Regions from separate parts of the Homo sapiens genome. Here region 2 is linked to region 1. A link means that fine-mapping ties the variant in region 1 to the expression of a gene that starts in the linked region. Tissue or cell type: whole blood. Region 1 holds a variant in brackets; the other region holds the start of a gene. All regions are shown on one strand. Distances are from middle to middle.

Region 1 (2,695 bases):
CTGATCAACTTTCTGTTAACTACAGATTAAGTTTGTCTTTTTACCCATTGCATGTAAATAAAATGAAACAAACAGTAAGTACTTTTTCACTCCTAACATATTGCACTCAATGTAATGTTCTGAAGATTCATTCACTTAGTTGCATGTGTCATAGTTAGAATTTTAAAAAATTATCAGTAGTTATTGTAAAGATACACCACATTTTACCTAGGATTCAACAGTGAATACACATTTGGGCTGTTTCCAGGTTTTGGCTACTATGAATGCATCTGCTTTGTCATGTTTCCTCTTTGGTAAATACCTGGAGTGAAATTCCTGGGTCATGGCTGCACATCCTGACCAATAGTTAGTAGTATCCGTATTCTTAAGTTTAGCCATTTTAATGGATGTATAGTATTATCATCTCAGTGTTGTTTTAATTTGTATTTCTCAGTTAACTAATGATGCTGAGCATCATTTAATGTGCTTATTAACCACCTGTGTATCCTCTTTTGTGAAGTATATATTAAAAATGTTTGTCCATTTTCAATTGAGCTGTTTTAGTCCTTATTTTGCAGCTGAAAGAGCTCTCTGTATATTCTGGAAAAACTTCTGTTGTTGAAAAAATTAATTTTGATTTTTTACAAACTATTTATTGCTTTTTTATTTCCTTAGTGGCCTCATCCAAAGAGCAGGAATATTCAATTTTTATGCACTCCAATTCATCAAAAAAGTTTTATGTTTCTTGCTTTTGTGCCCTAGGAAATCTTTGCTAAAGCTACACATTTTCTCCTATGTCTTTGATTAGAATTTTTTAAATTATAGCTTTAGTATTTAGGTCTGGAATCCATTTTGAATTAATTTTTGTGTTTGTTGAGAGGTGAGAGCTGATGTTCATTTTTTTTCTACAGAGATACCAGGATCATTAGTTGAAAAGACTATTTTTCCCCCACTGAAAACATTTTGTGCTGTTTTCAAATATAAAACATAGTTTTCTGGGATTTCTATTTTGTTGCATTGATTATAAAGAATGTAATAATTGTGGTACTAATAAAAATACATTAAAATTTTCTAGTTATGCTGAGGATATAGTTTTTACATAGTTTTATTTGCTGTTCTTGTAGCTATATATTATTTTGGAGAAGTATGAGGAGACAAGGATTTAGGCAGCCTCTTTAGCCTTCAACTATCCTTTTTACATAAAACTTAGAATCACGGGCCGGGCATGGTGGCTCATGCCTGTAATTCCAGCACTTTGGGAGGCCAAGGTGGGCGGATCATGAGGTCAGGAGATTGATCTCTACTAAAAATACAGAAAATTAGCAGGGCGTGGTGGCACGCACCTGTAGTCCCAGCTACTTGGGAGGCCGAGGCAGGAGAATTGCTTGAACCCAGGAGTCAGAGGTTGCAGTGAGCCGAGATCACGCCACTGCACTCCAGCCTGGGCAACAGAG[C/T]GAGACTCCGTCTCAAAATCAAAACAAAACAAAATTTAGAATTACATTTATAAGTTTTGTCAAAAATTTCTCAATATTATCATTAATAAACAAATTCAGTAATGTGACAGACTGCAAGATCAATACAGAAAAATCAATTGTACTTTTGTACATTAGTAACAAACCTGAAAATGTGATTAAGAAAACAACAGCATTATAACCAGGAATAAACTTAAACTAGAAATAAATTTAACAGAAGAATTATAACACTAATGCACTGAAAACTACAAAACATTTTGAAAATAAATTAAAGAAGACATAAATTAATGGAAAGATATCTTGTGTTCATGAACTGGAAGACTAACATGGTTAAGATGGCAATATTTCCCAAATTTATCCACAGATTCAATGCAATCCCTGAAAGAATCCCAGATGGCTTCTTTATAAAAATTGAAAAGTTGATCCTAAAATTCATACAGAATTCCAAGTTCCCTTAGATATTCTAAACAATCTTGAGGAAAAGTAACAATTTGGGGGAACTTACAGTTTCCAGTTTCAAAATTTACTACAAAGCAGCAGTAATCGACAGTGTAAGTATGACATATAAATCAATAAAATAAAACTGAAAGTTCAGAAATAAACCCATCATTATGGTCAACTAATTTTTGATAAGAATGGCAAGACTATTCAGTGGGGGAATAAATAGTATTTTCAGCAAATGGCGCTGGAAAAATTAGATGGCCATATGCAACAAAATGAAATTAGACTGTTACCTCACACCATATACAAATATTAACTCAAAGTGGGTAACAGAGCTAAATTTAAGAGCCAATGCTATAAAATTTTTAGAACAAAACATATGGATAAATCTGCATGACTTGGCAATGGACTTTCATATACGACACCAAAAACATAAGCAAAAGAAGTAAAAATAGATAAATTGCGCTTCATTGAAATAAAAAGCATATGCTTAAAAAGTATCAAAAACAGCAAAAAGACAATTCATTTCCTATGATTCTCAAATAATTATAAGAACATGAAGAGAGAAGCAATTTTACATATAAATGCAAGTAACATACTCACTCCCAAAATCTGTTTTAATAATTTTACTTGCGTTAGTAAACTTGTGGTTATTATAGAGTATTTCTGAGTCACACTTATACTCATGTTCGGGTTCAAGGTTTTCTAATTTAATTTCTTTATTATCAAATATCATATTACCTGAAATAAAGAAATATTTCGAATGAATATATCGATGCAATATTTCACGCACACATTTATTT
Region 2 (2,695 bases), 72 kb after region 1:
AAAATACTTTTTATACTTTTTGGAATTTCTACAAAAATTTTATTTTCAATGTCCTTTTAGATACTACATCATAAAGAGAAATATTAAATATTAATTATTAGTTACATTCTATAATCTATTGAAATGTACTCATGATTCATATTGACGCCGCTCAAGAACTATCCATTGAATAGACCATAAATGTGCAAAGATTTCAAACTTTAATAGGCACTGGAAGTCCAACTAGTTGCATTTTCCTACTGAATACAGCATTTGCATGATTTTTAAGAGTTTAAATATTTCTATCTCATCAAGGCTGTAATATTTACCCACCACCCAGGAAGGGCGGTGGCTCCACAAGAATTTCTAAAGCAAAAATGTATTAAAACTATTAACAAGAAACTAAAAACTTGATTTAAAATACATTCTGTGATAAAAATTGCAGAAAGTTAATATTTTACTAAATATCTCAATATATTTTTGAACTATTATATACCCAAGTATTCAATAAAATATGTCAATTAAATTCAAAATTTGAGGAAGCAAACTTCAGGTCTGAAAAGAGGGAGTGGCTTACATACAACCAAAGCTGTTTTATGACTTTTTAAAAGATCAAATTTGTTAAAAGAATAAAAACTCACTTATTTTATCATTAAAAAATTCTCAGGCTTTTATAAATGTGTGTTATTGTCACTTTGGAAGTTAAGTAATAATGTTGCTTTTGTAATATCTTTGAACAGTTGTAAATAAAGATACAGATAGACATTGCTTTCCTTTTAAAATTGTATTTTTTGTCCCGAAACATTTATGTCTTTGTAAACAGAAACAATGTATTCTGTCACACAACTAGCTATGTCTCCCTGAGACAACAATCTTGATGGTTTACAGCAGGCTTCTCACTTCCAGTTACCAACACATTTAAATTATTTTTATGTCTATTTCAAACATTCCTCCAAAAGAGAAAAAATAATTTAAAAAATATTAATATCCTTGTACTTACCTGTCACAAATACTTCTGTGTCCAGAAAGGCAAAGCCAAATGCCAAGAGTTTAAGCCACAAATACATGGTCATATCTGGAAGTCAGCCGTGTCCCTAAGAAACAGCATGCGTCCTTCTGAAAAGCAAAATAATTGTTATCTCTGTAGAAGTTTTTCTCTGTAAAAACGAATCAAAAATGTAAAAGTAAATAAATAAATGCATACTCTCCACTGTTGTCTTATCAGACGAGGAACAATTTCCTCCTCTGTTACCCTAAGAACAAACCACTTGCTAGCTGCATGAACTGCTAGGTGATGATGTCAGATTCGGTTTTACTAACTTCTCCAAAAATACTGTAAGGGTCCTCTTTGCAGGAAGTCAAAAAAGTTGTTCTAAGTCAGTAGAATGGCATTGCACTTCCTTAATTCAAGTAATTACACCAAGTTAGAAAGCCTTTTAAAAGATTTTCCCATCAAGGAAGATGTTTTTAAACCATCCAAATAATGCTCCTTTACAGTATCCATTACCATTTTTTTTAAATTAAATCCCCACAAAATAATCAATAATTTTCTTACTTAAGAGATGACAAACAGATTCAGCATAAGTATAACAAAATGGGTGTTGGCAAGATGACTTAGTAGAAAGTATCAATATTTGACTTACTGAGACGGCCAAATGAATGAAAAAACTACTAATCTGGTTATTTTTGGCAACCCAGTATCATTTACCATTAGGGCATTCAAAACTCAGCAATATGACAGTTTTAGCAGTAAAACCCATTTCTTATGCAAAAGCACTTTCAGACAGCTTAACAGTTTTGCCCCAAATCTTTCACAGATATCCTTGTGAAGCTAGGAGTGGAATCAGAATGTCATTTCTACTATAGTTACAGCAAACCCTGCTTCCAAAAACTAATGTTTCTGTGACTTAAGATGTTCTTGGCGCTACTGATGAGGGAAAGGACAGTGAAAACCAAGAGATACCTTTAACAAAAGTTAACTTGTTTCCTTTTTCTCAGCAATACTTTTTCAACTTTTTTAACAAATAAGACAATGAATTGTATTAACACAATGCTCTTCACCATTCTGATGTTCTTAGTTAAGTCCATCTATTAGGAAAATGCTTACTGGCAAAAAGTATAAATTCAACAATACAATTAGATGAATTGGTTTTATTAATACAATATCTATATGCCTTTAAAAATAAAAGTACACACATGTGCAACTCATTTATTTGAACAATAGATAATGCTTGGGGGACTTTTAGACAGACAGAGCCCTTGTGGTAATTCTGCAAACCCTAGTTTGGAAGCATTATTGTAGGGTTCTTATATTTAAGTAAATAAATCTTTTGATACTTACAAACTTTTTTGTTTTACTCTTACATTGGCTGCTAGGAACTACAGAGCCAAATTTCTATCACACTTTGTGCAAATGGAAATAACCCCACAGCTTAAACTCTAGGTAATAACCTTTTAATAAGATTGTAGTTAAGAATATTATTTTACTATGATTATTATTATATTTAACTTATGGAGCACTTACTATGTGCAGGAACTATGCTTTGCACTTTACATATATTGTATAATTTGTACGATACCCTTGAGCTAGATAATGTTATTATTCCCCATTTTATCTGTGATGTTCAGAGAGGTTAGTTGAGTTGCCTAAGATCTTGCAGCTAGGATGTAGACAAGCTATATTTAGAACCCAAGTCTCCAAGTTTAATTTTGCTTT

The links. PIP is the estimated chance that this variant, and not a neighbour inherited with it, causes the effect.
Region 2: PTPRC starts here. The variant in region 1 is fine-mapped to the expression of PTPRC in whole blood (TOPMed, PIP above 0.99). The same link has a PIP of 0.9 or more in lung.

Annotation. Positions count from the first base shown.
Region 1 is chr1:198,709,625-198,712,319 of GRCh38, reverse strand. PTPRC (protein tyrosine phosphatase receptor type C) reads right to left here. Exons shown (of 33, transcript NM_002838.5): 11 at 2,496-2,633. Among named protein-coding and RNA genes, the nearest start is that of PTPRC-AS1, 44 kb to the right of the region's middle. The variant C/T (reference allele first, on the strand shown) is at 1,434.
Region 2 is chr1:198,637,626-198,640,320 of GRCh38, reverse strand. PTPRC (protein tyrosine phosphatase receptor type C) reads right to left here and starts at 1,281. Exons shown (of 33, transcript NM_002838.5): 1 at 1,184-1,281; 2 at 980-1,095. The coding sequence starts at 1,052.